Linked DNA regions of Homo sapiens. The protein of the gene in region 1 interacts with the protein of each later gene in a pairwise test. Each region holds a gene or a part of one and is shown in the gene's direction. Other genes may lie near its edges. The genes, in order: MEFV, COG5 and PSTPIP1.

The links.
Region 2: the proteins of MEFV (region 1) and COG5 interact in a two-hybrid assay, tested with the Homo sapiens proteins (one study listed by BioGRID).
Region 3: the proteins of MEFV (region 1) and PSTPIP1 interact in binary tests that used the Homo sapiens proteins (3 or more experiments, as listed by UniProt).

Annotation. Positions count from the first base shown.
Region 1 is NC_000016.10:3,245,493-3,256,031, reverse strand, and holds part of MEFV (pyrin), read left to right. Parts: intron 1-1,241; coding exon 1,242-1,874; intron 1,875-6,251; coding exon 6,252-6,601; intron 6,602-7,027; coding exon 7,028-7,123; intron 7,124-8,785; coding exon 8,786-9,016; intron 9,017-9,484; coding exon 9,485-9,507; intron 9,508-10,539. UniProt on the Homo sapiens protein: Involved in the regulation of innate immunity and the inflammatory response in response to IFNG/IFN-gamma.
Region 2 is NC_000007.14:107,558,544-107,569,847, reverse strand, and holds the start of COG5 (conserved oligomeric Golgi complex subunit 5), read left to right. Parts: upstream 1-5,927; 5' UTR 5,928-5,951; coding exon 5,952-6,045; intron 6,046-11,304. Other genes in the region: DUS4L (tRNA-dihydrouridine(20a/20b) synthase [NAD(P)+]-like), read right to left, coding at 2,662-2,777; DUS4L-BCAP29 protein, read right to left, coding at 2,662-2,777.
Region 3 is NC_000015.10:77,010,455-77,020,993, forward strand, and holds part of PSTPIP1 (proline-serine-threonine phosphatase-interacting protein 1), read left to right. Parts: intron 1-7,693; coding exon 7,694-7,794; intron 7,795-8,002; coding exon 8,003-8,077; intron 8,078-10,539. UniProt on the Homo sapiens protein: Involved in regulation of the actin cytoskeleton. May regulate WAS actin-bundling activity. Bridges the interaction between ABL1 and PTPN18 leading to ABL1 dephosphorylation.

The DNA of each region.
Region 1 (10,539 bases):
TACATTTATGATTAATACTCATGTCAGACAAACATCTCTAGGTTAGCAAAAAGGGATTGCTATGCAATCATATGAACGGGGTTGGTATAGAATCTTCTCAGTGCTGTTCACCATGTTGGCCAGGCTGGTCTCGAACTCCTGACCTCAAGTGATCCTCCCGCCTCAGCCTCCCAAAGTGCTGGGATTTCAGACATAGGCCACCGTGCCCGGCTTATTTTTATTTTTAAAGCGTATAATCTGGGTTTTGCTGACCTGTGTAAGATCTTATTTGAAACAGTTGTCCTGCTTAAAACGTTTGAAAAGTACTATTTGAGAAATATAGGCTAGGCATGGTGGCTCACACTTATAAATAATCTCAGCACTTTGGGAGGCTAAGGTGGGTGGATTGCTAGAGCTCAGGAGTTTGAGACCAGCTTGGGCAACATGGTGAAACCCTGTCTCTACCAAAAATACAAAAAAATGAGCCAGGCGTGGTAGCACACACCTGTATTTTCAGCTATTGAAAAAACAGAAAACAGGCTGAGGTGAGAGGATTGCTTGAGCCTGGGAGGCAGAGGTTGCAGTGAGCTGAGATCACATCAGGGCAACAGAGCAAGATCCTGTCTCAAAAAATAAAATAAGAGAGAGAGAAATACATAGCAACATCAAGCATGTTCTTACTGAATGGTAATTGACTGCCATTGTCTAGTCTAGGAAGTCCTGAACTTTTGTTTTTGAGATGGAGTCTTGCTCTGTCACTCAGGCTGGAGTGCAGTGGCCCGATCTCAGCTCACTGCAACCTCCACATCCCGGGCTCAAGCGATTCTCATGCCTCAGCCTCCCGAGTAGCTGGGACTACAGGTGCGCACCACCGCGTCTGGCTGAGTTTCTTATTTTTAGTAGGAACGGGGTTTTGCCATGTTGGCCAGGCTGGTCTCGAACTCCTGACCTCAAATGATCCTCCCACCTTGGCCTCTGGAGAAGCTGGGATTACAGGCATGCGCCACCACGCTCAGCTTATTTTTGTATTTTTAGTAGAGACGGGGTTTCACCCTGTTGGTCTTGAACTCCTGATCTCAGGTGATCCTCCCGCCTCGGCCTCCCAGAGTGCCGGGAATACAGGCATGAGCCACCGCGCCCGGCCCGTTGTTTTCCTCAATTTCTAAACTTTAATATCCAAGGGGATTCTCTCTCCTCTGCCCTGAATCTTGGGCCCTAAACGTGGGACAGCTTCATCATTTTGCATCTGGTTGTCCTTCCAGAATATTCCACACAAGAAAACGGCACAGATGATTCCGCAGCGTCCAGCTCCCTGGGGGAGAACAAGCCCAGGAGCCTGAAGACTCCAGACCACCCCGAGGGGAACGAGGGGAACGGCCCTCGGCCGTACGGGGGCGGAGCTGCCAGCCTGCGGTGCAGCCAGCCCGAGGCCGGGAGGGGGCTGTCGAGGAAGCCCCTGAGCAAACGCAGAGAGAAGGCCTCGGAGGGCCTGGACGCGCAGGGCAAGCCTCGGACCCGGAGCCCGGCCCTGCCGGGCGGGAGAAGCCCCGGCCCCTGCAGGGCGCTAGAGGGGGGCCAGGCCGAGGTCCGGCTGCGCAGAAACGCCAGCTCCGCGGGGAGGCTGCAGGGGCTGGCGGGGGGCGCCCCGGGGCAGAAGGAGTGCAGGCCCTTCGAAGTGTACCTGCCCTCGGGAAAGATGCGACCTAGAAGCCTTGAGGTCACCATTTCTACAGGGGAGAAGGCGCCCGCAAATCCAGAAATTCTCCTGACTCTAGAGGAAAAGACAGCTGCGAATCTGGACTCGGCAACAGAACCCCGGGCAAGGCCCACTCCGGATGGAGGGGCATCTGCGGACCTGAAGGAAGGCCCTGGAAATCCAGAACATTCGGTCACCGGTAAATTGTGTTCTTTCCTACTTTATATCGGCTGCAGAGAAAGAATGGCTGGCCGGGCACGATAGCTCATGCCTGTAATCCCAGCGCTTTGGGAGGCCAGGGCGGGAGGATTGCTGGAGGCCAAGACTTTGAGACCAGCCTGGTGAATGTAGTGAGACCCCCGCCATCTCTATAAACGAAATTAAAAAAATAAAAACCCAAAGGTTGGGCAGGGCGTGGTAGCTCTCGCCTGTAATCCCAGAGCTTTGAGAGGCCTGCACGGGAGGATCTCTTGACCCCAGGAGTTCCATACTAGCCTAGGCAACACAGTGAGACCCCATCTCTACAAAATACAATAGTGGCACGCGCCTGTAGTCCCAGCTGCTCGGGTTCACTTGAGCAGACGGAGTTCCAGGCTACAGTGAGCTGAGATCATGCCACTGCACACCAGCCTGAGCAACGTAGCCAGACTCCACTTCTACAAAACTAAAAAAAAAATTAGCTGGGTATGGTGGCACACGCCTGTAATTCTAGCCACTCAGGAAGCTGAGGCAGGAGGATTGCTTGAGCCAGGGAGTTCCAGGCTGCAGTGAGCTGAGGATGTGCCACTGCACTCCGGCCTGGGCAACAGAGCAAGACCCTGTCTCTTAAACATTTTGGGGGGAAAAAAAAAGAAAGAAAGAATGTCCGATTGAAAAAGGCAATCAGGTGTTATCAGTGGCCAAAGAATGGAGAAGGGGAGCTCACCTCTGCAGGCGTCTGCTTGCCAGGGATGGGAGGCAGGGCGATTTTAGAGTCCAGGGAGGGGAAGGGAGATAGGTAAGCAGGCCCAGGGCAGGGTTCCATATGTGCAGGCGCTGTCCCCAGCATGCTTCTTCCTACATCGCATGGACACAAAACCCTGGCCATCTTCTTTTAGGGGAGGGACCTTTAGCCTTATAACAATGTGTAAATGATCTTAAGGTAACTGGAAGTCACCTCTTCCAGTTTGCACTGGTTTTGCTCTGATCTTAACTTCCTCTGGTTTTTGGCAAGGGATCAGGAGGCTCCAGGCCATCTGGATTTTTTTAAGCAGCTGTCCCTATAGGTAAAGAGACTAAAAAAAAACTGTAAAAGAAAAATGCCACCAGTTTAGAGGGTACCGAGGCTATCCAGGTGACAATTCCATGCTCGTGGTGGGGGCAGCATTCAGAAACACACTTTCCTTTTTTTTTTTTTTTTTTTTTTTTGAGACAGAGTCTCAGTCTGTCTCCCATGCTGGAGTGCAGTAGTGTGAGCACAGTTTACTGCAGCCTCAACCTCCTAGGCTCAAGCGATCCTCCCACCTCAGCCTTCCAAGTAGCTGAGACTATAGGTGCTCACCACCACACCTGGTTAATTTTTTTTTTTTTTTTTGTATTTTTTGTAGTTACGAGGACTGTCTATGTTGCCCAGGCTGGTTTTGAACTCTTGGGCTCAAGCGATCCCCCGCCTTAGCCTCTAAAAGTGCTAGGATTTCAGGTGTGAGTCACTACACCCAGCCTATGGAACACACTTTCCAATGCATTGTTGGCTGGAGAGGAGAAATCACAGCACTCAAGGAGGAGAAATAGAATTGGGGGTCCAGGCCGGGTGCGGTGGCTCATACCTGTAATCCCAGCACTTTGGGAGGCCAATGGGGGCGGATCACCTGAGGTGAGGAGTTCGAGACCAGCCTGCCAACATGGTGAAACGCCATCTCTACTAAAAATACTAAATTTGCTGGGCGTGGTGGCGGGTGTCCATAATCCCAGCTACTCAGAAGGCTTCGAGGCAGGAGAATTGCTTGAACCGAGGAGGCAGAGGTTGCAGTGAGCCAAGATCATGCCACTGCACTCTAGCCTGGGCGACAAGAGCAAAACTCTGTCTCAAAAAAAAAAAAAAAAAAGAATTGGGAGTCCAGGGACCCCTGAGACCTGGGAGGGGAAAGGATGTGGTATGCTGCATGAGTCTTCAAATCCAGAAGTCCCTGGGTCTTCCAGTGAGAAAGGACCCTGGGATCTGGAAAACCTAGCATCCTTAGGAATAGTGACCTGAAAAGTACTGAAGTATTTCCCCCCTAATTTTCTTTTATCCCTACTGTATTTTTTTTAATTTTTTTTTTTTTTTAGATATGGGGTCTTGCTATGTTGCCCAGGTTGGTCTCGAACTCCTGATCTCAAACAATCCTCCCATCTTTGCCTCCGAAACTGCTGGGATTACAGGTGTGCACCACTGCACCAGGTCCCCACTGTATTTATATCATTGGGATTCCTGGGTGTCTTCTAGGGCCGCTTCGTTAATCTGATGCAGGCTTAGACCCTGAAAAATGCATATATGCACAGCTTCACAAATGTCACATCAAATTTCAGGTAGTTCTTGGACACTCTGAAGACCATCTTTAGAATCCAAGGGGTTTATGGACACCAGGTAGAAAATCTGGGGAAGACTGGTTAAAAATACTCCCTCTCACAATAACCTCACAGCAATGCATCATCATGGGGTTGAGATTCTACCATTTGCCTTTCTCTCAGCAGAAAGAAAAGCCTATTGGCTAAAGTCCTAACTATCTACTGCTGAGGTAGTCATTAAAATTATGTTTGGTTGTGAATAATAGAAACACCCAAATAACAGTAACCTCAACAGAAAAGAAGTTTGTGCCTCCTTCACATAAATGATACACAGGCGGTCCCAGGCAGATCCGTGGGCCAGGACCCTGGGGTCCTGCTGTTGCTCTGTCCCACCAAGTTTGTCCTCAAGCTTCTGCTCTCAGAAGGTGACGTCCTCATGCCAGGCAGCAAGATGGAGGAACAGAGGGGAATAGTATCCCTCGGGAAAGCTCTAGAAGTTTCTAGAAGCTGCTTGTGACACCTCCATTTACATCCCTTTGGTCATATTATTGTCAAATAGCCACACCTAACTGCAAAGGAGGCTGAGAAATGCAGGGCATTTGGGGGGCAATGGGAGGCAGGGAAACAGGGAAACGTGGACAATTAATTCTATCACGAGAGAAGGAGGGAGAATAATTTCTGGTGACTACTAGCAGTCTCATTTACAGATGTGCTGTGAATTTCTGGGACACTGTGAGGTGGGAGGAGGTAGCAGGGGCTAAAGGATTGAGTGTGTTTCTATTTCTTTTTTTTTTTTTTTTTTTTTTTGAGATGGAGTCTCTCTTGGTCACCCAGACTGGAGTGCAGTGGCGCAACTTCAGCTCACTGCAAACTCCGCCTCCCGGGTTCAAGCAATTCTCCTGCCTCAGCCTCCCGAGTAGCTGGGATTACAGGTGCCCACCACCACGTCCGGCTAATTTTTGTATTTTTAGTAGAGACAGGGTTTCACCATCTTGGCCAGGCTGGTCTTGAACTCCTGACCTCATGACCCACCCGCCTCGGCCTCCCAAAGTGCTGGGATTACAGGCGTGAGCCACTGCGCTCGGCCTTGTGTTTCTATTTCTTCTTGTATCTCGTGGCATGTCTGCTTATGAAGTTGCAATTAGAGTCTTGGAGTAGAGCTATTCATAACTGTTAGGTCTTCATGATGAGTTCCAGTCTTTAGCCCTATAATGCCCCCCTTCTTTGCTTTTTCTTTTAAGATGGCATCTTACTCTGTTGCCCAGGCTGGAGTGCAGTGGTGCAGCATCAACCTCCTAGGTTCAAGCAATCCTCCTGTCTCAGCCTCCCAAGTAGCTGGGATTAGAGGTGTGCACCACCACACCTGGCTAATTTTTTAATTTTTTGTAGAGGTGGGCTCTTGCCATGTTGCCCAGGCTGGTCTCAAACTCCTGAGCTTAAGCAGTCCTCCCACCTTGGCCTCCCAAAGCACTGGGATTATAGGCATGAGCCACCACCCAGCCCCTTCTTTGCTTTCATTTAATGGTTATTGAACTCATATGTGAGCAGTGGTCTATTTATTCCTTCATTCAATACTCATTTTCCAAATGCTTGCATTTGCCAGGTACTCTGCTAGGGGCTGGGATCCAGCTAGGAGCGAGGTACACAAGTCACCATCCCCTGGAAGCCTCCACTCACGTTATGGGCAGCCAGGGATGGGTTCAAGTGGCAAAGGAACACTGGTCAGAATGTCTCTTTCCTTGGCATCACCTGCTAGATCTATGTCTGTGCAGGAGGAACAGCACAAGGCCATGGGTCTTTCTTTAGGATAAATGCCCAAGAATTCCAAGGCTCAGGAATGTCTGAGGTCTGGCCCTTAGCTCTCAGGCCCAGTGGCCTGTTTGCTTCCTCACTGGATGGAAGTCGGGGGAGGACAAGCTAGGAAGTGGGCAGAGTCTAACTGAGAACTCGCACATCTCAGGCAAGGGCTGTGTCCGCTGTGCTTTGTGATACCTCTGTGTAAGCAACTTGGGTTTGCCATTCAGGGGGTTTTTCCACTGCATGTCCCCAGGAAGGCCACCAGACACGGCTGCGAGTCCCCGCTGCCACGCCCAGGAAGGAGACCCAGTTGACGGTACCTGTGTGCGTGATTCCTGCAGCTTCCCCGAGGCAGTTTCTGGGCACCCCCAGGCCTCAGGCAGCCGCTCACCTGGCTGCCCCCGGTGCCAGGACTCCCATGAAAGGAAGAGCCCGGGAAGCCTAAGCCCCCAGCCCCTGCCACAGTGTAAGCGCCACCTGAAGCAGGTCCAGCTGCTCTTCTGTGAGGATCACGATGAGCCCATCTGCCTCATCTGCAGTCTGAGTCAGGAGCACCAAGGCCACCGGGTGCGCCCCATTGAGGAGGTCGCCCTGGAACACAAGGTAGGCACTCCCTGCCTGTGGGCTCTTCTCTGCCAGGCACTTGGACACACTGGGCCTTACTTCATTTTCCCAACAACTCTGGGTTGTTGGTGCATTAACCAGCATTCTTGGGCTGGAAATGGCAAGAACACAATATAAACCAGTCCAGCAAAGAGGGGAGCTACAGGTTTATGTTGCTCAGAGATCCAGGGGGAGCTGGCTTCAGGTATGGCTGAATCCAGAGGCTCAGAGGAAGTGCCTCTCAGCTCTGCTGCCTTTGGCAATTCAGCCATTCCTCCCTCCTCTTTCCTGAGCACCCCTCCCCATGCCGCTGGCAGCAGCACCCTCAGCCTTGCTACCAGAAGGAGATGTTCCCCTCCAGAGTTGGCACCAGCTAAAGATGGCAGGAGCCAAATTCAAGCTTTTCAACAAGTGCTGTTTTTCCAGAAGAAAATTCAGAAGCAGCTGGAGCATCTGAAGAAGCTGAGAAAATCAGGGGAGGAGCAGCGATCCTATGGGGAGGAGAAGGCAGTGAGCTTTCTGGTAAGGTCAGAGGTGGCTGATGGCCCATCCGTCCCTGGGAGGAAGGTGGGAAGAGTGAGCAGGGGTCCCCGAGATTCTGCTGTGGTTCACAGGGCAGCAGGGATGGCCACCTCCTCTCAGGGGACAGAGGGTAACCAGCAGCCAAGGGTAAGCTCATCCCTGTAGAGGGAGACCACCCCCAGCAGGCAGGGGTCACCTCTGAGGATCCTGTCATGCTTTCTCATACTCACCAGAAGATGGTAGAGAGCAACCTATGCCGGTGACTACTGCAGAAAGATGGGATTGAGGAAAAGGGAGGAGAACGCCACTTTCTTTTTTTGTGACGGAGTCTCGCTCTGTCACCCAGGTTGTAGTGCAGTGGTGTGATCTTGGCTCACTGCAACCTCTGCCTCCCGGGTTCAAGCGATTCTCCTGCCTCAGCCTCCTGAGTAGCTGGGATTATAGGTGAGTGCCACCATGCCTGGCTAATTTTTGTAGTTTTAGTAGAGATGGGGTTTCACCATGTTGGTCAGGCTGTTCTCGAACTCCTGAACTCGTGATCCGCCCGCCTTGGCCTCCCAAAGTACTGGGATTACAGATGTGAGCCACTGCGCCCGGCCAAGAACACTTTTAACTTCATAATTTACTCTCTGTTTTTTTGTTTTGTTTCCAAGATGGAGTCTCGCTCTGTCACCCAGGCTGGAGTACAGTGGCACGATCTTGGCTTGCTCCAACCTCCACCTCCGAGGTTCAAGCAATTCTCCTGCCTCAGCCTCCTTAGTGGCTGGAATTACAGGCGCCTGCCACCGCGCCTGGCTAATTTTTGTATTTTTAGTAGAGACGGGATTTCACCGTGTTGGCCAGGCTGGTCTCAAACTCCTGACCTCAGGTGATCCACCTGCCTCGGCCTCCCAAAGTGCTGGGATTACAGGTGTGAGCCATCGTGCCTGGGCTGGTTTTTTTGTTTTTTAGGGTTTTTTTTTTTTTTTTTTTTTGAGATGGAATCTCACTCCGTCGTCCAGGCTGGGGTGCAGTGGTGCAATCTCGGCTCACTGCAAACCTTCGCCTCCCCAGTTGAAGCAATTCTCCTGCCTCAGCCTCCCGAGTTGCTGGGACTGTAGGCACATGCCACCACTCCTGGCTAATTTTTGTATTTTTAGTAAAGACAGAGTTTCCCCATGTTGGCCAGGCTGGTCTCGAACTCCTGATCTCAAGTGATCTGCCCAACTCAGCCTCCCAAAGTGCTGGGATTACAGACATGAGCCAATGCACCCAGCCCAAATTTCCCCATTTTATAAGACAACATTTATATTGGATTAGGGACCCACCCAATCCCAGTAGGACCACATCTTAACTAATTACATCTGCAAGAACTCTTATCTCCAAATAAGATCACATGCTGAGTACTGGGGGTTAGGGCTTCAACGTGTAAATTTTGGAAGGGACACAGTTAAACCTTAACACCAGGTTTAAGGACATTTTCCCAGAGCTAGCCCCAGCCATGCTCAGTCTTTTCTGGAAGGTTCCAGACAATATCGCCTCCTGCTCTGGAATCTAGGCCTTGAAGAGGCAGCATAAGCCCACCTCTTATCCACCTCCAGGAGGTGGGCTTCTGGGGGTTCCTGGACATCCACGTCCACCCACAGCACAGACCCCCATACCTCCCTGTCCTCTGCTCCCCAGAAACAAACTGAAGCGCTGAAGCAGCGGGTGCAGAGGAAGCTGGAGCAGGTGTACTACTTCCTGGAGCAGCAAGAGCATTTCTTTGTGGCCTCACTGGAGGACGTGGGCCAGATGGTTGGGCAGATCAGGAAGGCATATGACACCCGCGTATCCCAGGACATCGCCCTGCTCGATGCGCTGATTGGGGAACTGGAGGCCAAGGAGTGCCAGTCAGAATGGGAACTTCTGCAGGTGGGTGTGCCTGGGCCCGGCTTTCTTGGGTCCCCTGTGCCTATCAGGATGCCTCAGGCTCCCAGCTCTGCCATCAGCCGTGCTGGAACAAGTGGGTGAAGCCCCTAAGGCCTAGGATAGGACTTGGTCTTGGTGACCCACAGTGCCTCTTGTGCCCAGACCCCTTTGATGAGGTCTCTCAGGAGCCCAGGGTGGCCTGGTATCCAGGGGATCTCTGCCATTTCCCAGAAGGGATCAGCAGGGCTTGAGGGCCGTTCCATTGCAGGCCTCGCCACCTGGGATGCCTGAATTCCCGTGGTTAGAATTAGACTTGAAGAAAGGTGCTCCACTTCCACTGACACCCTAGGGCAGGGAGCCCTGGTAAGTGCAGCGGGGAGCTAAAAGTCCAGGAGCCCAGAAGTAGAGGCCAGGAGTCAGCCCAGCCACTAGGAGCCTGGTAACCGACAGTTTCCTTCTTTTTTCTCCTAGGACATTGGAGACATCTTGCACAGGTACAGCGAGGTCCTGTGGTGTACCCTGGGGTGTCTTGCAGAAAGCATATGGGGGAGACAGTCCCAGAAGGGACCTGGGAGGGAGATGTTCCCAACCCCGGGGTCTGTGATTCCAGACTCCTCCTTTTTTCTGCAGCTTCCCAAAGCCTCTCTGGATTTGATAGGGAGAAGGGCATCTGGTCAGCAGGGAGGCTGGCCGGGTATGGAGCTGCAGACTGGGAAGGGTGAATTCAGCCCATCCTGCTGAAACAAGATGGAGGCTCCCTAAGAAACCTTCCGAGTGCATTGTGTCCCGTGCAGTTCATCTGATGAAAGCTGCCCCTTCAGGCCTACTGGTGGCCTTGGGAAGCTTGTTTGGAGTGGAGCTGGGCTAAGCCCAGCAGGAAGGGGAGGGGAGGGAAGGGACAGGAAGAGGCTAAGCCTTAAAATCACCTGGGAGCTTTACAAAATCCCGGTGTCCTTTTGTGTCTGGCTTCTTCACTTAGCATAATGTCTTCGGGCTTCATCCGTGTTGTAACGTGTATCAGAATTTATTTTCTTTTTATGGCTGAATCATAGTCCAGTGTGTGTTCATACATTTTGCTTATCCATTCATGGATATCGGGACTTCTTCTAACTTTTGGTTTGTGAATAATGTTGCTATGAACAAGGGTGTACAAATATCTGCTTGAGACCCTGCTTTGTTATTTTGGGTACCTACCCAGAAGTGGAACTGCGGGACCATGTGGTTATCCTGTGTTTAATTTTTTTTGAGGAACCACCATCCTAATTCTCACAGGGGCTGCATCGCTTCACATTCCCACCAGCAGCACACAGGGGCTCCAGTTTCTCCACATCTTTGCCATCACTTATTTTCTTCTGTTTCACTCTCTCTCTCTCTCTTTTTTTTTGAAGACAGCGTCTTGCTCTGTCATCCAGGCTGGAGTGCAGTGGCGCGATCTTGGCTCACTACAACCTCTGCCTCCCAGGTTCAAGGGATTCTCCCACCTCAGCCTCCCTAGTAGCTGGGACTACAGGAGCGTGCCACCATGC
Region 2 (11,304 bases), on another chromosome or scaffold:
AGATGACATGGTTGTTCATATAGACTCTGAAGGAATTTACAAAAAAACTAGAACCAACAAGTGAGTTTAGCAAGTTTTCAGGATATAAGATCAACATACAAAAATCTATTTCTATGTGCTAGCAATAAACATGTGAACACCAAAAATTAAAAATTCTATTTACAAACATGCTCAAAACCTGGGTGTCTTACAAAACATGTGCAGAACTTGTATGCTGAAAACTACACAATACTGATGATAGAAATCAAAGAAAATCTCAATCAATGGAAAGATATACTGTGTTCATGGATTGGGAGACTCAACCTAGTAAGAAAGTCAGTTCTTCCCAAGTTGAGGTATAGGTTTCACACAGTTCTTATGAAAATTCCAGCAGGGTTTTTTGCAGAGATAGACAAGGTCATTCTAAAATTTATTTGTAAAGCAAGGGAACTAGAATAGCTAAAACAATTTTGAAAAAGTAAATAAATTGGGAAGAACCAGTCTACCTGATTTCAAGACATATTATAGAGCTATATAGTAAAACTGTGTGGTATTGGTGGGGAAAAAGATACAAGATCAATGGAACAAAACAGAAAATGCTGATTTCTCACAAAGAAGCAAAGAATTAGCGGAGAGATAGCCTTTCTTTTTTTATTATTATTTTTGAGACGGAGTTTTACTCTTGTTGCCCAGGCTGGAGTGCAGTGGTGCGATCTTGGCTCACTGCAACCTTCACCTCCCAGGTTCAAGCGATTTTCCTGCCTCAGCCTCCCAGCAGCTGGGACTATTGGCATGCGCCACCACGCTGACTAATTTTTGTATTTTTAGTAGAGATGGGGTTTCACCATGTTGGCCAGGCTGGTCTCGAACTCCTGACCTCAAATGATCTGCCCACCTCGGCCTCCCAAAGTGCTGGGATTAGGATTTGATGGCGTGAGCCACTGTGCCTGGCTGATAGCCTTTCAAAAATGATGCTGGAGTAATTGGACATCCATAGGCAACCTAACCTAAGCCTCACACTTACATAAAAGTTAATGCAAAATTGATCATGGACTTAAATGCAAAACATAAAACTATAAAACTTTTAGGGAAAAAAACTTAGGAGAAAATATTCAGGATCTGGAGCTACATAAAGGTTTCTTATACTTGACATCGAAAGCACAATTTACAAAAGGAAAAATTGATGTTAGACTTCATTAAAATGAAACTTTTGTTCTGCAAAAGATCCTGTTAGGAGCATGAAAGACAAGCCATATACAGGGAGAAAATACGTGCAAATCACACATCTGACAAAGCAGAATATATATCTAGAGTATAATAGAAAACAAGAAAACAAACAAATGGACAAAAGCACTTGAATAGATACTTCTACAAAGACAACATACAAATGGCCAATAAACACACAAAAAGATGTTCAGCATCATTAATCATTAGGGAAATGCAAATTAAAACTGCAATGAGATACCACTTCACACCCATTAGGATGATTATAATAATAAAATAAAAACTCCCAGAACATAACAAGTGTTGATGAGGATGTGGAGAAATTAAAACTCTTGTTCACTGCTGGTGGTAAGGTAACATGGTGCAGCTGCTATGGAAAGCAGTACAGTAGTTGCTCAAAAAATTAAACATAGAATCACCATATGATCCAGCAATTCTACATCTGGGTACATAGTCAAAAAGAATTGAAAGCAGGGTCTCAGAGACCTGTTACGAACCATGGGTATTTGTATATGGGTATTTGTACACCCATAGTTCATGACAGTATTATTTGCAGTAGCCAAAAGGTGGAAGTTATCTTGTGTTCTATCAATATATGAATGGATATCAACAGATGAATGAACAAAATATACATAAAATGGAATATTATTCAGCCTTAAAAAGGAACAAGTCTGATATATGCTACAACATGAATGAACCTTGAGGATGTTATGCTGCATAAAATATTAGCAAAATAAATCCAGTTCTGAACAAATACGTATAAGACTTATATGAGGTACCTAGAGTAGTGAAGTTCATAGAGGGAGAAAGTAGAATAATGGTTGCCAGGGGCTGCTGTGAGGAACAGTGGAATGGGGAGTCACAGTTTAATGTGATAGAATTTCCATCTTCTAAGATGAAAAGAGTTTTAGAGATCAGATGCACAACAATGTGAATGTAATTAACACTGCTGAACTGTATACTTAAAAATGATCGAGAGGTAAATTTTATGTTACGTATATTTTATAACAAACTTCTAAAAAAACTCAATAGTAAAAGAGCAAACAATCCAATTAGAAGATGAGCAAAAGATACGAAGAAATATTTCTTCGAAAACTGAACACACAACTACCTTAGGACCCATAATTGCACTCCTATTTGTCCCAAGACTTAAGTTCACATAAAAATCTATACATCAATACTTATATCTATTTAATATCCATTATATACTTATAGGTAGGAGTTACAACCACCACCATTTTTATAGATATAAAAAGTGCAGCTCAGAGAAGTTAATTGTTTACTCAGGATCACATATATACTAGGCAAGTAGTAGCATCATGACTCAATTCTAAGTCATGATTCCAAAGCTAAGAGTTTGAAGTTCCCATATGGTGGGTGGTCTTACAGTACTTTTAAAAAGTCAGAGCATAAAAGGGAAATTTCATCTTAGTTCATTAATCATTTTGCAACACTTACTTTGAATATCGAACCATTGGGGCACAGACTTTTACCAGCTGTCCAGAATGAAACATTTCTATGGGATCTTTTTTTCTTTCCTGACATATTGTCGTTTGCATGCAGTCACTCTTCATTAATACAGATATGTTTCAAATCTGAAAAAGACAATAAGCTTGTATAGAGAAAATATGTTTTCACTATATTAATTCCATTCTAACAATTTCAACTGCCAACAACATATATTTTTTATCAGGCTTGTGGGCTCAGAAATTTTTTTATTAATAGCTTATTTTCACAGTATCCAATATGATACTATAGAATGCTGCCTCTATTTGTAAGATAAATAGATGTGGAAAACTACCCAAGATAGTTGTGGAAACACAAGATGCAGAAAACGAGATTTTTTTTTTTTCCCTAGTTTACCATGTTGTAAGTTTTCATGTTATTTAAAAATTTTTTACATGTTACTTTGTTGGGATTGGTAAGCCAAGAAATTTGGTTTGAATTATTTTATATATGATACTCGACTGGCATTTGGAAATATCTTGTTTTATTCAGGAAAGTTAAATGGCATTAATAGAGCAACTCTTAAGTAGTCAGTGTTTCAAAAGATATGCTGGTGCTTTTATTGTAATTCTTGAATCCTGTTCTGTCTGTGAATCAGAAGATAAACAAACGTTAATTATTTTTAAAAATTTTAATGTGATATTATCTAGTGAAAATTTCAATTATAATTCTACAATTGCATTGTAAATCACTTTTATACCCCAAGAGGTACAGGTACGAGTGATGAAATTATGGAGTTTGTAAATGTTTTACATTTGCTATACTTAAAATCCTACTATTTCACAGTGTTGGCTACTTTTCATATTCCAGTCCTTGGCCTCAGTAACTTAGAAACAGGTATGTATGAAGGAAAAATGAAGCAGAAAATAACAACAACAAAAAAAAGAATCAGATATGGGCCAACTTTAGAATGGTCTAATTGCTCAAACTTTAGAGTCTTTAACCTTTAGGCAAGGAGTTGAAATTAAAAATAGCCAAGGTACTTAAGGATGTCAGGATCTTGCAAGAAACCGCTGGAAGCACCAATATTTAAGTAACAGAGGAAAAGGGGAGAGCAAAAGAGACTGAAGATGAACTTTGGAGCTGGGAGGAATAAACCTAAAGAGTGATACTCAGAAAACGAGAGAGACCATTATGAAGGAAGGAGGGGATAGGTATCTTAAACATCAAAGTAAGGCAAAAATAAAGCGCAATGGCAACAAGGTCATTAGTGATTTTAGCAAGAATTACTTCATTTTTATCCACTCCTGCAGTCATAGTAAATGGCATACAGAAGGCCTCAATATTTATTTGCTGAAAGAATAAATCAGTAGGTTTCAGGGGACTGGGCTCACACCTGTAAACTCAGCATTTTGGGAGGCCAAGGTGGGAGGCTTGCTTAAGGCCAGGAGTTTGAGACCAGCTTGGGCAATATAGTGAGACCCCCATCTCTAAAAAAATTATAAAAATCAGCTGGGCGTGGTAGCAAGCGACTGTGATCCCAACTACTCCAGAAGCTTGGGCAGGAGGATCCCTTGAGCCCAGGAGGTTGAGGCTGCAGTGAGCCACGATCCTGCCACTGCACTCCAGCCTGGGTAACAGAGCTAGACCCCAACTCAACAAAACAAAACAATCAGTAGCTTTCTACCTTAGTTGTACACTACAATGACCCGAGGAGCTTTTAAGAATTAGCATGCCCAAGCCATACCCTAGACCAATTAAATCCAAACGTCTGGGCTCAGGATGCAGGCATCAGTGTTTTTATTAAAGCTCTTCAGGTGATTTCAATGTGCAGCTAAGCTTGGAATTACTGGAATAAGTAAATCCAAAGATTCCAAAGCACCTGGTACAATTGTTTGTTTAAATGGGTTCCTACCTTACCTATTAACTCCTTTTAGAATATGGATTGAGTCTTATGTTTGTAAACTCATGAGAGCATGCAGAGTAGAGGGGTCAAAACTTTCGCTGTATGAATGAATATTACTCACTCTTCTAAAATCTTCCACTGGGGGGAATAAAGCCAAGGAAGGAAAAACAATTCCTAATTCACAAGTAATGAATGAATCACCCCTATTCCCATCATGACTAAGATCTTACATACTAGGGAAAATCCTCTGAGACAAAGAGAGCATAATGCAGTGTAGCATAAGACTTGCTTACCTGAGGTGTTATGAGTATGAAATGCATTGAGTTATAAAATACTTAGAACAGCGATAAGCACAGGATAAGTAATAGCACCTTTTTGAAACAGAATGTAGAAAACCACGTAGCTCTGGAACTGGATAAAATTGGTTTCCTGGATACATACCTACTGTACAAAATGAAAAAGTCATCTTCCAGCTTCTTTTTGCGAAGAAGCTTAAGACTGTCTTGCATACTTGTGGTTGCCTGACCCTGTTAATTTATCAGTATTTATCTTAGAAGAAAGAAATCTAGGTCAAAAACGCGAACGTATTAGTAAAGAAGATACAATGGGAACCAACCTGATGCTCTTACAGCGTCAATACTGTTAGTTGAGATGTGGACCATCTATCAGTTTGTAATTAAGAAAAAGTCTGGCACGTGACTGAAACTGAGGAAGAAGTAGAAAAGGCAAAAGGTCAAAGGTCTCATGGGAAGGAAGGAGGGTAGAGACAGTGAGTTTTATTGGTCCTTTTATGGTTCAGACTTCCTTCTTCATCGACTCTCCCTAATTCTCTTCACTGTTCATCCCCAGCAACTTTTCTTCCCAAGCATTTCCTGCGGGCTTTTATTACCCCAGGAGTGCCAATCAAGGCGTGGAACAGATAAAGCTGTGTAGCAACTAACGCGTGACTCTTGTGAGTGTGGAGGGCAAACGAAGCTCCCTGAAACCTCCGCTCTGCTCTCCTGCCTTACGCCGCGCGGCCCCTGTTCTGAGGTTTAATACTTGCTTCACAGATAAGCGCTGCGGCCACGTTCCGGTGCCCACCTTCTCCTTGGCTAGGGCACGACGCCAGCCCAGGGGGCGCGGCCCTGAGCTGCTGCGAGAGACAGCTGAAAGCGCCGGCCCGACGGCCTTGGCTCCCTCGGTGCGCTGGGCGCAGAGCACTCGGACCCTGGGCGCCCACTGCTCGAGTACCTGCGCGGCTCCTAGCCAGGCTTAGCCCAGGCGCGGGCTGAGAGTCAGTTCGCCAGGTGGGCCTGGAGCCATGGGCTGGGTGGGCGGGCGGCGCCGGGATTCTGCGTCACCACCTGGGCGGAGCCGTTCTGCTGCTGACGACATCAACCCGGCACCTGCCAACATGGAAGGTGGCGGCGGCAGCGTCGCTGTAGCTGGCCTCGGAGCTCGAGGCTCTGGAGCGGCTGCAGCTACAGTCCGGGAACTTCTGCAGGACGGTAAGGAGACGGGGTCTGACCAGGTCGTGGGGTTGGGGGTCTGCGCTGCTCCGCACCTGGACAGCGAGGTGGACCCAACCCGTTGCTTTGCAGAAAGTTTTCCAGTCTGGACGTGACCACTCCCCTCCGCCCGGCCCCCTGGCTTGGGTACTGTTCTAGCCAACCTATTTACTCTGGGACTGGCTCCCTCTTTTCTGGAGTCTTGGGGACACTTGGTTTCTGTGTGTTCCTCATTTCAACTCGACCCCCCCCCCCCCCATGCCTCCAGCTTCCCTGAAGTTTCGGGAGCCCAAACCCTGTGGACCGCGTTGGCAGCCACCGGCTGCTGCCGCAGTTCTTGACGAAGGGGTGTAGCGTTCGAGCTCTTCAAAAGTGTAAGCTCTAGAACAGACGGCAGACGCATAATGAAATAGGGCCTTGTTTTAAAGTAGAGCTGGAAACGCTTACTCCTTTAACAAATGGACTGTACAGGTGACCCCTCTTACAGGCTGGTTTTTTTTTTCCTCCTTTATGAGGCAGTTATCTACAGTGACACGTGGGGGAGGGTTTGAGACATTTGTTCAGGTTGGGATTAACCATTTGTACAGAATCTAGCAGTCAGATTTTATTGCTAGTCAGTTTGGAGAGAAGTTGCCCAAAATAAGAAAAGTTAGATATAATATACTTGAAAAGCATATTCAGTTGTGTCAATCCAGTTACCATGTCCCGAATCTCTTATCCTTCAGAATAAAGTTCACATTTATAAGCATAAAAATAAAGCCCTTCTCACCTGTTCTTAATTTTTTCTCTAGTGGCCATCGCATTCTACCTTGTACTAAAATCATTTGTATACTTGTTTTAATCTCTTCTGTATTGCAAACTTTTTTTAATATCCCACAGTGTGAATAGCAGTATCTTGCATACAGTAGGTGCAGAATGTTTTTTAAATTCATCATCGCAGTTAGAAGCACATGCACACATTTGAAGACCGAAGTGGGTAATAAATGAAATAAAGTTCCAAATTATTGTTTATTTTCTCTGACTGTTAAATATTTTATTGTCATCCTGAATTACGTGCCTTTTCATGATAATTTATGTACTTTTGTCAAAAGCAATGATGTTTTCTGAACTATTTCATGTTGGAAACTCTAGGACCGGGTCTCTGTCTAAAACTTGGCTAAACTGAATTTAAACTTTAGATACAAGGCAGAGACCCTGATATATTTGCAGTTGCTCCTGATACACGTGCAATTTTTGCCCTCAAGTAGTTCACCATCTAGTAGAGGAAATAATCTTGTAGACTATAAAGGTAGGTGCTGTAATATAGTGATGTAAGATAGCAGTAGGATTGCATATAAAGTAGAGCATTAATACAGAGGAGAATGATAACTGGGGGTTGGAAACTGGTTAGGAAATGTCAGAAAAGGCTTTCTAGGTGGAGACGTTTTAAACTGTAGACAGGACTTCCCCAGGTGAACAGTGGAACATTGGATATATGTTTCAGTAGGATGTATTTCAGGAATTGTAATCAGTTCTTGGACGGTAAATACTCTTCAGTTCTGCCTTCTGTATTTTCCTCCTTGGTTCTCTGCCATTCTCCACAGTGATTGTTTAAATCTTCTTTACCCTTTTCAAACCTTTCGCTTCAAGCTCAACAAATGACTTTAAGCTTCCCTGGGGAGAAAAAGAGGATCCATCAGATGTGAACTTTCTCCATTTCTTGCCCATCAAACCTATGAATTTAACCTCAACGTATAACCATCTGTTGCACCTTTTTTCCCTTGCCTTTTCAATTGCAACGGAAGTGGAGCCTCTGCTCCTTTCTTTCTTTCTTTCTTTTTTTTTTTTGAGACGGAGTCTCGCGCTGTTGCCCAGGCTGGAGTGCAGTGGCGCAGTCTCGGCTCACTGCAAGCTCTGCCTCCGGGGTTCACGCCATTCTCCTGGCTCAGCCTCCTGAGAAGCTGGGACTACAAGCGCCCATCACTATGCCTAGCTAATTTTTTGTATTTTTAGTAGAGACGGGGTTTCACCGTGTTAGCCAGGATGGTCTCGATCTCCTGACCTCGTGATCTGCCTGCCTTGGCCTCCCAGAGTGCTGGGATTACAGGCGTGAGCCACCACGCCCGGCCGAGTCTCTGCTCCGTTCTAAGGATAGTGCCTCCTACTTTGCTCTGGATTTTTTCTTCCTGTTTCCTGGGGACTCAGTCACCCTCAATCTATGCCATTGAAGTAACTTTGCAAGGTTTTCAATGACTTTCTTGCACATACGACAAATGGACACTTTTTTGGTCCTTTAACTTGTAATAACATTTGATTCCTTTCTTGAAATACTTTCCTCATGCGGTTTATGGGTGCCGTGCTTTTTAAAAATTCTTAATTCTCTAGGTGCTCTTTTCCAGGTTCCTGTAGATACTTGTCAGTTCAGTTTGTTCTGAATTAAGCGGTCTCTGTTGCCCCTCCACCCCCAACATTCCTGAGGAATTAAGCATTTCCAGCAGAAACTTTGATTCACTATATCGGGGATTTGGCCAATGACAGAGTATCGGATTGATAGGCTTGGTGAGCACAGATGCATAGTATGAAAATTGGTGAGGTGTTTCTGATATGCCCTCTATGGGAATGAGGAAACTATAAAAGAGAAGCATTATATAATTCATCTCTTTAAAGGCTGTCAGCCCTCAAATGCCACATCCCGTTGTGTTTGATCTTTGTAAGCTCTATGACAATACTAATACTTACTTTCTTTATCCCTTCTTTTGGCTTTTGCCATTCTTTTTTGTTTCTCTTTCTCCCTGAGCACTCTTTAGTCTCTTTGATTGCTTTCATTTTCTCTGTCCACCCCCCACTTTCCTATCTTCCTCATTTTCCTGCCTTTTTGTGCATTCTAAAACTTTTTTTTCCTAAATCATCTGGTCTTGTCTGTGGTTTCAGTATGCTCCTTACCTGTCTTCTGAATTATAAAACTATATTTTTAACTGCCTACTGGACATTTCTATCTTAATTTTTTTATGATATGCCATTCCATAACCTGTATGGACATTTCTATTTTGATAGTAAACAAGCAGTGCTAGTTCTATAATACACATGAAAACCTACATATGAACAAATAGTACAAGGTTTACATATGAAAAAATGAAATGAATTCACTTTTTCTGTTCTTCTCTCCTAATCTTTTCCTCTGGTAGTTTCTGTTATCTGTGTTTACTATGTTGTTAGGTAAATGTGTGCTTGTTCCCCTTGTAAATTATGAATTCCTTGGAGGCAGAAGTTTATGTTCATCTTGGTATATTCAGTGTCTAGTGGTCTAAGTTAGTGTAAAACTAAATTTCCTGTATCAGTTGCTTAATCCAGAAATTTGGGAATCCTTGTTTGTTCTACCTAATCACCCATTTTCAGCTTGTCACTAAGTCCTACATCCTGTGCAGTGTGAATATTTGTCAAATTTGTCACTTTGACATTCTTAGTGCCACTTATTCAGGTCTTAGTCGGGCCTTCATTATGTCTTAGGCTGTTAACATAGTACTTTACTGGCCTCTGTGGTTCTATTTCTTGGGTGTATTGGTTAATTGGCTTTGTGGGAAAATAGAAAAAGCCCTGATTTTTGTAGTGTTTGCTGATTACCATGGTGTAAATACTCTCACCATCGTAGATTTTAAGATATCTGTGTGAAAGGTCAACTGGCTCACAGAATTCCTGAAAATGTAACAGTCTGTGCTCAAGAGCCAATAAGAGGCAACTTCAGCACATTGCTGTGTGACTAATCCTTTTTCCATCATCCTCTATACAGCTGCCAGGATTATTGTTCTGTAACATAAAGCTGATAGTGCAATTTCTTGGGTTAAATGAGATATGGTTAAACATTTCAAATGTCTTACAAACCTCTTTTCAAACTGCGCTCCAACCTTTGGAACCACATCTGTCATTCTTTACCATTTCTGTCCAATATACATGTGCTATGATTTAGACACACTGAAATCAGTATTCCCCTTGTTTCTCAAAATATGCCATGGCATTTGCCACTGCTAAACCTTCCCTTTGCTTGGAATGGCTTTTTTCATTTGTCTGGCTGACAGGACTCTTAATTCTGAGAAGCACTTGGCAAATCAGAAGGAAATGTGGTTCTCAGACTTAAAAGCAGCCAAAGTAGCAGTTTCCTTCTTTCATTCCACTACATTTTAAGAATAATCAAGAGTATGAGCCTTTACTTTTTGTTGTTGGTTGTTACCAGAATGATACTAATGATACATCAGCTGATGTATAGATTAGTTAATTCATGGAACCTGCCATGTGTCTGGTATTGTTCAGACACTGGAGAAGAGTTAGCAAACAAAACAAAGACCTTCTTCCCCTCTTGGAGCATACATTATAGCAGATGTAGACAATTTAGGTTTTCTTAAAAGTACTCTATTTTGTTTGTTTCATAATCTCTCTCAAGGCAGCTTTACTTGTATCTACTGTATCATTAGGAGATTTGGTACATGGTTACCATGAGCTCCCTTCTGGGTATCTATTTTTAGCTTTCAATTCTCTTAATTTTTCTTTCATCCACATATTTGTGGATTTCTATATTGAGGGGTATCTTTTTAACATCTGGTATTACTTCTGTTTTCTGTCTATTAGGGGCCTATTTTAAACAGCTTTTCTTTCCATTAACATATTTCACCCATAAATCCTAAATTTCAGTAACACCTATAAATTTATATTTCCTATTGTTACTAAAATTCCAGATTCACTTTGCTATAACAGTATTTGTGTATTGATCTAGAGATATCTGAGGCCATAAATATTACATATGTGTATATATATATATAGAGTCAATTTTCCTGTTGTCTTTTCACTGACAATGATCTTGTTTTCTTGGATTAATAGTTATAGCTAGTAGTTATGGTTTTTTTTTTTTTTTTTTTTTGAGATGAAGTCTTTTTTTTTTTTTTTTGGGACAGAGTCTTGCTCTGTCGCCCAGGCTGGAGTGCAATGGCGCAATCTCAGCTCACTGCAAGCTCCGCCTCCCGGGTTCACGCCATTCTCCTGCCTCAGCCTCTCGAGTAGCTGGGACTACAGGCGCCCACCACCACGCCCGGCTAATTTTTTTTATATTTTTAGTAGAGACGGGGTTTCACTGTGCTAGCCAGGATGGTCTTGATCTCCTGACCTCGTGATCCACCTGCCTCGGCCTCCCAAAGTGCTGGGATTACAGGTGTGAGCCACCGCGCCCGGCCAGAGATAAAGTCTTGCTCTGTCACCCAGGCTGGATTGCAATGGCACGATCTCGGCTCACTG
Region 3 (10,539 bases), on another chromosome or scaffold:
CAGTCTGGCCTCAGGCCACCTTACAGACACCTGCTCCATCTCCCTGCACCTGTCTCTGCTGCCTTGAAGCAGGTTGCACAGGAACAGCACTAGCACTGGACTTCCAGGCAGCTGAGTCTGAGGGGCGTGTCTCCATCTACCTCTGGCCGCCTTGTGTTTGCTCCTTGCCTCCTCTCTCACTTTTCTTCTCTTTTCTATTTCTTTTTCTTTTGAGACAGGGTCTTACTCTGTCACCCAGGCTGGAGTGCAATGGCTCAATCTCGGCTCACTGCAGCCTCTGCCTCCCAGGTTAAAGTGATTCTCCTGCCTCACCCTCCGAGTAGCGGGGATTACATGTGCCCGCCACTACGCCCAGCTAATTTTGTATTTTTAGTAGAGACAGGGTTTCACCATGTTGGCCAGGCTGGTCTCAAACTCCTGAGCTCAAGTGATCCACCCCTCTCAGCCTCCCAAAGTGCTGGGATTTCAGTTGTGAGCCACCACGTCCAGCCCTCTCTCTCTTTTCTGCATGTTTTGGTTTCATGACACAGGAGAAAGAAGTGGGGATTGGGCTGGCCCCATGAGAGTGAAGGAGGGGAAGCAGGCGGGGAACTCAGGCAGTGGGGTGCTTTCCTGCCTCATCATTGAGAAGGCCTATTTAAAAGAACAAAGCTTTCAAGCCAGACAGACCTTGGTCAAAAGCCAGACGCCCCACAACATTAGAGAGAGTCACCTCTCTTGTCTTCACCTTCCTCATCTTCATGACAGACAGTAGCTGCCTCGTGGTCAGTATTGCTGAGGGCAGGTACCACACTCATGCACAGTGTGTCCTTGTCCAGTGCCTGTGTTGTCCCTTCAGTGGGACCCCTGGGAGTCCCTGGAAGCTCACAGGGCTCTGATGGGGTCCCTGTCAGCCACGGGCCTGTGGGCCTCCCAGCACAGTGGAGCCCAGCCCAGGCATCTCTGGGACTCGGCCAGCTGGGCTGCTCAGGTGAGGGGCCCTGTAAGGCCCGGCAGAGGCCATCAGACTGGGACTCGGAGGAGAACTGTGGCACTCTGGAAACTCATTTCTAATCTCAAGGTCCTGTCAGCCCAGGTGAACAAAGAGTCGCTCATCTGACATTAATGCACATTTGTTCTCTAAAAACTAAAAGTCTGTCTTTGCCTTCTTGGCCCTCTGTCTTCAACACTTACCCTGGGCCATCTCAGACAGCTGTAAGTCATCTTCATCCCATATTTATTTGCTTATACATGGATCGCAGCAGTACTTGAGTCAGGGGACCCCTAGACACCAAGTCCCTAGTTTAACAGGCCATCTGAGGCTTGAGTCCTCTCTGTGGAACCAGACCTGCTTACAGACTGTAGTGATGGGCGCTCCTCACCTGTCAAAGCCCCCCACCCTCTTTCCATACCTACAGCCATTCAGGCTCCTGGGAAGCCTTTCCTTGCATTGTCCTGGAGTTGGCCTCCCTGTCTCTGCCCCCATGAGTCCTGGCTTGGGCTGGGAAATGCCAGCCACTAGTGCTCCCTCTGCTTCTGATGGCCCCACAGAGATCTCCAGGTGAGACTTTTCCTAGGCCATTCCCTCACAGCTTTGGCTTGGAACTCTCCCTTCCCTCCCTATCACCTCCTCCCAAATACTCTGGGTAAGCAACCGCCTTGTTTACTGAGGGCTCTGGCCATCCATCCATCCATCCATCCATCCATCCATCCATCCATCCATCCACCCACCCACCCACCCACCCATTCACCCATCCACCTGTCCATCCATCCATCCGTCCACCCATCTGTCCATCCATCCATCCACCCACTCATCCATCTACCTACCCATCCACTCATCCACCCATCCACCCACCCATCTACCCATCCATGCATCCACCCACTCACCCATCCCTCCATTTGTCCACCTGTCCACCAGTCCACCCATCCACCCACCCACCTATCCACCCATCCATCCATCCACCCACCCACCCATCTACCCATCCACCCATCCATCCACCCACCCATCTACCCATCCACCCATCCATCCACCCACCCATCTACCCATCCACCCATCCATCCACCCACCCATCCATCCATCCTTCCATCCATCCATTCATCCATCCATCCATCCATCAAGTTGTACCTGAGTGTTTGGTCCTTTGCCTGCCTCACTTTGCCAACCAGTAATGGTGGAGAGGAGTCCCACTGTGGGGTACTGACTGTAGGGCGGTGGAAGGAGCCTGGTTGCTACCCATTGACTTAGCATCCCTGTGCCTCTGTTTCCGTATCTATACAATGGGGATGATAATTCCTGTCTCAGAGGACTGTTGTAAGAAGTAGAGGGGACCAGTGTGACTGGCTTCTTTAAAGGTGCTGGGTAATGGGTCATTGAATCTGCAAGCAAATGATCTGGTCCCCTCCATGGGGCACCTCAGGAAGCAGCCGTCATAAGGCCTTGTCCTCTTGAAGGCCTCACTGAGGCGCTTCTCCAGCCCATCACTCAGCATGTCTGTGAGCAGAGCTGTGTGTAGGCACCAGGTGCCGGGATCCAGTGGGGAACCTGAAAGACCCCCCTCTGCCTCCATGGAGCTCAGCCCTTCCTACCTCAGGTTTTCAGTCCACAGAAGACAAGCAACAGGAAACTAGGTGCTAGCAAACCCACAGTGTCAGCCACACTGGCTGCAGATGTCACTGCTGGTGTGAGGGAGGAGAGCACCCCAGCACCATGCAGCTCCGTGCAGCTACCTTCCAAAGCTGCTGCTACGTCTTGCTTCCCCACCTGTGGCCCATGCTGGAGCTTTCCCAGTCATCTTCAGGTGTAACCCAATCCAGTCCAAGCTAGTATCACAATTTCACTCTCATTCAATTTAAAGCTCCCCAGTTCCCCGACTTTCACTGGAAGCCTCTGATGGGGAAAAGAGAACAGGGTCAGTTTCCTCCCTTGCCATGGGGTACCCACACTGCACTGCCAGCTGCCTCTGGGGTCTCCATGGGGGGGTGGTGGGGCACAGGCCGTGACTGTAAAGGGGAGAAACATCTCATTGCCCTGGTACTGTTGTAACTGGTGACAGTGAATGCACACAGGTCAGCCCTTTCTCTCCCTGGCACCTGGGCAGGTTTTTTGGTGACCCTGCCCCCCTGGAGTCCCTGACCACTCCGTTCCCTACAGCCTTCCACTTCCAACCTCTCCCGTTGCACCCAATAGTCTGCTCCACTCAGCTTCTCCTAGGGGCTCCTCTCTCCCTGTCAGGCTATTCTCATGGACAGAATTACCAGGCAGCTCTTCCTGGCTACCTTCCACGGCCCCCACTTGGTTCCCAGGGAAGATTTTGGTGCCAGTTCTTGGACATAGCAGGTAGGAACTCGGACCAAAACCCAGGTGTCCCCCTCCAAGGTTGGAGGCTTAGCTGTCCTCTGATAGATGCTGTATTCTGGAGTGCCAGGCAAGGGAGCATTTGAAAAAGGCTCTGCTCCCCTTTAAATGGAACCTCTGGTGGAGGAAGGTGTGTAGGGCGAGAGGGGAGGTGATGAGGTGACTCATTTCTTCCAGCCTGGCCCCAGCTGAGGGAAGGTGTTTCTGGTCGGGGAGGTGGCAGGCAGGCGGGGAGGGCTCGGGGAGCTGCTGCTTGCTGAACTGCCCCTGGGTGACAGGCCCTGAGTGTGGGGCTTTGCAGAGAGGCAAAGTAATGGGAAGTTAACAGCCAAGATCGTGGCTTGGGATATCTGGGTTATATCCCAGCTGCACCCGGCAGGTCCCTGGGCAGATTGGGTAACCTCTCTGGGTTACCTTTTCCTCATCCATAAAATGGTAGTCATCACCCCTAGCCCAGTATCTGCCTTGTGGTGAGCCCTGATCTTGAGTCCACTGTTCTCACCTATGCGCACGATTTCACTTGCTTCTCGGGTCACCTCTAGGCGGTGAGAACTATTAGGCCCATTTTCACAGGGAAGGAAACAGGCTGAGAAGGGCCAGGGTCACGGGAGGTGTGAACCCACATCTAGTCAGTCAGACCCTTCCCAGCCTCTCAAACAGGCCCGAGTACCCTCTCTGACCTGTGGCCTACACTAACAGGACTGTGCCCTAGAGGGGCGGGCTGTCAGGGCCCGAAAGGGGGTTAGCCTCCTGCCCCCACTTTCCCAATGAGGAAACCAGGTCCTGAGAAGTAAAGTGGCTTGCTTCAGGCCCTGGTGTCTGTGGTCTCGCCCCTGCAGCCACCAAGAGTTATGGGCGTGAAAAGGGGGAAGTGGCGGTAGTTACAGAGGGTGCTTCTCCACTCAAGCCGTGGGGGTGTGGAGGGCCCTGGCCGGCTCACAGGCCTGGGCCGTGGCTCACACCAACACCCACCAGAGAATGAAGCCAGTAGGCTGTCCCTGACAGAACAGGGCACCCAGGCCTTGGCCACACTGCCTCAAGGCAGAGGCAGGAATATGTTTCCTCCCAAGAGCCTCCTCCTGGAGTTCTGGGATGCCGCCTGAGGCCGATGGCCACACACCATGGACGGCGAGGGCTGGGTCCCACATCTGGCTCAAGTGAGCCTCCCAGAGGAAGAGACTGTGCCCGCTCCCCACCTGGCACCCCTAATCCAGGACGGGTTATCCTGGGTGCCACATGGCTGGGCCGTGACCACTGGCTGTTCATGGGTTACCCAGAGCCGCACTCCTCTGACCCAGCCTGGGCCCCAGGCTAGCCTCTGTGAATCCACAGTAACTGAATTATAGCCCAAAATACAGCTTTGATTTGAGGTGGAGATAATTTGAGTAATCATTTTCAAGAGTTATTTTTTCAAATCATGTTTGGATGTTCCAAAATAGAAAATGGTTCCTGGGCTGTCTACTAAATGGCTGATGTAGGTATATGGCTTTGGGGACAGGTTGACCTGCATTCAGATCCCAAACTCTGCCCTTTACCCATTGAGTGGCTTTGGGCAGTCTCTTTCCCTGTTTGGGCCTCCTGTCCCCATCTTCGCCTCCCGAGATCTGTGTTGTGGTCAGGAAGATAACGCTATGATACCCTTGGTGCAGTGTGTGCCAGGTAGACTTGATAAATAGAGATTTCACAAAGGGCAGGGCCACAGGCAGCATTCGGATGACAGAGGTTGGACAGGATGAGGGGAGATGGAGGTAAGAGGAGTGGGGGACAACTAGGGTAGGTCCCCTGGGGGTGATGCTGATGCTGGGTCTTGGGTGGCAGACCCACATGACTGATTAAGTTACAGGATGATTGGTTCATTCATTTCCTAAACACATCCTGAGCCTGACTGTCCCAGCTCAGAGCACGGAGTCAGACCCATGCCCTCGAGGAAGTGGCAGGGGTGGGGGTGAAGGAGGAGGGCGCGGGCTGGGGGAAGGGGTGCAGGGCTGGGAGGCATCGTGAGCAGCCCCTGGAGAGTCAGGCACTTCCTCGGAACATCCCAGTCCTTGTGACAGTAGCTCACTCGGCCACAGCCCCTGCCAGCAGCCCAAAGCTCTGAGCGGGGGACTGGGCGGGATCCTGGAGCCTGCAGCCTCTGGGGACTTGAGCACGGCGGTCACAGCCTGCAGGGCCTCTCGCTGCTTTCTGACTCCTCCCGAATGGCCAGCGTAGGTTCGGTTTGCTTCTCTTTCCACTCTGGGGGCCTCCATAAGGACAGGAGAAGGGTTCCCTTGGCGTCAGGGCTGGGTGTGGGGCTGGGCTCCAGGTGGCCTCTCCAGAGGTATCAGGAAGGAATGACAGGTCCCCTGAGAGTCCGGATTCTTGTCCTGACTCTGCAGCGTCAAGCAAGCCATTTCCTTCTCTGGCCTCAGTTTCCTGAGGAGTGAGGGAAGCCGCACAAGGTGGTTCCCAGTTCTCAGGGCGGGGGGGTCTGTGGCATTCTGACATGAATGCTGGTGTCCCTCCGGGCAGGTGCAGGAGGCTGAGGCCCCAGATTTGTTTTTCTTCCCAGCCGCCAGGAGCTCTGACCTGAGGGTCTGGAGTGAGGGCAGAGGCTGAGGGGTGGGAAGGGGAGGGCTGCTGGCTGCAAGCAGCTGCCCACCAAAACCACAGAAATGGAAGCCTGGTCCAAGCTAACCCAGTGATGTCAACCTGGACATGGGGGTGGGCGCCTGCCTCTGAGGCTGGGGGGACAGCTTCTGGCCTTCCAGGCTAGACACGCTGCTTGTTGCTCTGTGGACAGCTGAGCCTGGACCAGGCCCTCCTCAGGAATTTCTAGGGATGCTTATGGAGGGGGTAGGAGCTTGGGGTCCTAAGTGTCCTACAGGCCAGGAGAGTCCACCTGCTGAGGGTGGGCTGGAGTTTGTGGGGAGGGGGGGCACTGTTGGGGCAATTTATGCCATTGCTACCCCTACTTCAGATTCTTCTTAGACCTTGGAGAATACCTTCTCCTTCCAGCACCTGACTCAAATGCCTCTTCCTGCAGAGAGCTCTCCTGGATTTCGACTCCATCCCTGTTCCCCTCACACCCCTAAGGTGGCATTTGAGGGGAGACATGGGTCAGGGGAAGGAGTACCAGGCTTTACCTGAGTCATGTGTGTGCGACCCTGGAGTGTGCGTGACCTTGGAGACTGTAATGTGTGTGGTCAGGGGAGCTGGGACTTCTTCCTCCAGTCTCTGAGGCTTTAGGGGTCCTCAGGGATAGAAAGGAAGACAGACTAGGTGCGGAATGTCAGGCCTGCCTTGGTGCAGTTGGTGACAAAAATCCTGTCTCCCCAGCACCTCTCAAGCTCCCCTGGAGTAAGCCTGCGTGCAGTGCCTGGGAGAGCTCAGGGGGTTGTGGCGGGGATCCTGGCCCCGGGACCCACTCCCCAAGCCTGGGAATGTCCTGGGAGACCTCTGTTCCTTCATAGTCCTTAAAGACTACCTCCCTCCCCCAACTTCTCACACCCAGCTTCCCACACCAGCAGCTCAGACACACACCTGGAATCCACTGCACAGTGAGAAAGGAGAATTGGGTTGGCCAGGAACAACAGCCAGGGCAAGCAGGGCAAGTGCCAGGCAGCAGAGGGTAGCTGTCCCTGGAGAGTTCTCTGAGGCTCCCCACCCCACCCCAGTCCAGAGGTGAATGTAGGGTGTGCTTGCGCATGCTCTGACCTGGACTGAAGTCACCCTCCATGCCCACCTCCCTGGATCTCCGTGAGGGGGGGTTTCCTGAGCCCACAGAGAGCCCAGCGCAGCATCTGGCACATGGCTGGTGCCCAAGAAACCGCAATTGCTGTGATGGTCATGGAGACTGCACAGTGCTGAGGTGAAGGGCAGGGACCCCAGCCAGACAGCCTGGGGTTCAAGGCCAGGCCAGCCACTTTCCAGCTGGGCCGCTCTGGATACGATCACATGTCACCCTCCTACACCTCGGTTTCCCCACTTAGCTGAGATAGGGATATTGGAAGGGTGGCACTGTGAGTGAGTGAATTTCAGGCCTGGCTGTCATCAGGGGGACTTAAGGGTGGCTCTTCCCATCTGCTATCTCATGCTGATGTGTGTCCTGTCCTGTGAGCTCTCCAGATGCCAGGCCCGGCACCCCCGGCCCTGTCAGCTGGGTGGGGCTCACTTATGTACCTGTCACCTCTGCAGATGTGAGGGGACCTCCTGTGTGCCTGTGTAAAGCCAGGTCTGGAGTCCCAAGAGCTTGCCCTGAGCAGGGGAGATGGAGGCAGGAGGGAGGCTGTTCCCAGAGATGGTGGGAGGGTCCCCACAGGGCTGTGCTCAGTGTCGCCTGGTCGTGGCCCTCATGTGTCCTTCTGTCCTGTGTCACAGTGCAGGGACTTCACAGCCCACACGGGCTACGAGGTGCTGCTGCAGCGGCTTCTGGATGGCAGGAAGATGTGCAAAGACATGGAGGAGCTACTGAGGCAGAGGTGAGCTGCTGGGCAGGCCATGGGGAGCGCAGGCAGGAAGCAGGTGGCTTCCGCTCGGCTCCTGGGACAGTGGACGAGGCCCCCATCCCAGCCAAACTCTGTCAGAACACGCCCTGCTTTAAAAAACTCTTCTGTGTTCCCTCAAACCTGGGCCTCCCCCAGAGGTGGCAAGTCACTGATGATCTTTCAAATGCCCTTTTTTTTGCAGGGCCCAGGCGGAGGAGCGGTACGGGAAGGAGCTGGTGCAGATCGCACGGAAGGCAGGTGGCCAGACGGAGATCAAGTAAGATCTCCCGGGCCCTGGGGCTCACTCCTCTCCTCTGCTGGCAGTTTCTGGGCCTTTAGATGAGGTTTAGGTCTTCCTGGCATGGGGGAGGCTGGGCAGAACCAGGGTAGGTCTGGATTGCTCCTTGGTGCCTGGTTATTGGGCATTCAGGGTGAGGCCAGGTTCTGTGAGGGAGGAAGCCCGAGGGTCTGAGTTCTGGAAAGGGTCTGGGCAGGGGAGACAGGAGGCCATCCATCCTCAGTCATTTGCAGCGCAGTCTGCACCAGCCTGGGTGGCCTCCACTGAAGTCCTGAGGGGCAGGTGACAGGCGTCTCCACTGGTGGCTCAAGTCCCCTGCAGCACTGGCTCAGCATGGGCTTCAAGGATGGAGATGTAGCCAGAGACAGGGGTCCAGGAGGGGACACACCTGGGTTCCGGTGTCAGCTCCTCACCCCCCAGCTGTCTGACCATGGGCTGGCTGCTGACACACTCTGTGGCTCCGTTTCCTCATCAGTGATGGGAAAGTAACGCAGCCCTCCTCAAAGGAAGAAGTGGGCCCATGGGCTTAGCTGAGGCCTGGTTAGAGGGCAGGCCGTCAGGGAAGTGGCTCTGATGAAGCGGGAGTCTCCAGCCCCACAGGTCTCTGCACGCAGACTGCTGGGGTGGGAGGCCAGGTGAGGAGATGAAGGTGAGTTCAGGACACAGCCACCCTAACAGTGGAGTGGAGGGGCTGCTCTGGGAAGGCCCAGACTGTCCCCCTGGGTGAGGACAGAGCCAGGCCAAGGGGCAGACAGACCACCGGCCTCCAACTTCTTGAAAGGGCTCTGCAGAGTCCTCCTGCCGAGGGGCCCTGAGCCTGACCCTGCAGCTGCTGTGGAACCCCTTCCCTTCCTGCCTTCTCCCCCGAGAGAGGAACTGAATGTGCCATACTCTGAAGGTCCCCCAAAGACACCAGGCACCCTGGCGGCTCCTGCTTCCAACCAGGAGCCAGAGATCACAGGAAGGCTTAGATGTGGCATGAGCCGTGTGTGAGGCCAGAAAGTTGCACACAGCCCTGGGAGGACGGAGGGCTCTGAGGAGCCCTTGGAGCTCTGGTCCCGGCTCGGCCAATCTGAGCTGTGGGACTGTGGGCCAGTCGCCTAGCCTCTCCAAGTTTGTTTCTCACCTCCCACTCCAGCGAGCTGCCGTGCAAATCAACAAGAACATGGTCTGAGGGCCTCCCAAGGGAAGGGCTGAGGGCCGGGTGCAGGCTGGGCACAGAGGAGGGCTCAGGACATGGTGAGGAGTGAATGGACGTATGCAGGGAGGTGTTTTCTGCAGGAAGCAGTGCCCAGAGCTCTCAGCCAGGGGAGGAGCAGCTGTGGGGGCCTGGCAGCATGACCAGGGGAGCCCCTCCTGGTCTCCTGGCCTCCCAGCCTCCAGGCCAGCTGGAAGAGAACTTTCCCAGAAAGAGAGGGTACCTCATGGGGAGAACTCAGAGACTCAGGAGAGGTGGAGAGGGTGGCCCCAGCAGGGCACAATGGGAGCCAGGCTGGAGTGGGTCTGTGTGATGCAGGCTCAGGGGATTGTGAGTCACAGGGGATTTACAGCAGGGAAAGAGAAGCTACCCACAGAAAATACAATGGGGGTGGGGAGCAGGGTGGGCCTCAGGAAGCAGGAGGTACGCAACATCTTGCTCCATTTGTAGAACTAGGAAGGGGCCAGGTGGAGGCTCTGGGCGGCCCTGATTGCGCCATGGTTATTCAAGGCCAGGTGGGGCAGGGTCTGCCCTGACTTATCCTTTGTGTGGCCCTGGATGGTCCTCCCTGTCTCTGAGTCCAGGGTCTGTACCTATGGAAGGGGATGGTCACTTGGAGAGGTGTTCTGGGCAGTCACAAGGACAAGCAGAGAGTGCCAAGCCACAGGGGTTCACTGCACACAGTGGGGCTCCATAGTGTTGCTCTTGACCCATGTGGCATGAAGTACTGTTGATGAGGCCATGCAGCTGTTCCTTTCGGTGTAGGCCAAGCATCCATCCTCCATCCATTTAGTCACCATTTAATTGAGGACCTACTATGTGCCATGCCCTGGATGGGTCAGGAGGATTCACTAATTTAAAATAAAATAAAGGGCTTTGCCATTCCTTAGCCAGAGTCCAGCACAGTGAGGGTGACTTCCTTCTCCTTCCTAGTCCTTTGCATTAGGGCCCATTTATGCGCCACCTCCTCCAGGAAGCCCTCCCAGACACCTTGCCTTGCCTTACTGTCAGAGTCTTGGCTTAGACCCAATTACCCCTCCCCATGCCAACCTGAAGGGCTTTTGGTGGGGAAGTGTGAGCAGTGGCCGTGGACCTGTTTCCTCATCTTAGACTCCTGTGGGGGGGGGGGGTGTGTGTGTTGGCCCTCAGGAAAGGTGACCCGGCTCTTCAACATCGGGGCTGGTGGCCCACCCTCCAGGGCCCATCCCTGAGTAGGGGAAGCCCCTGGCCTCCCTGAGGCCCA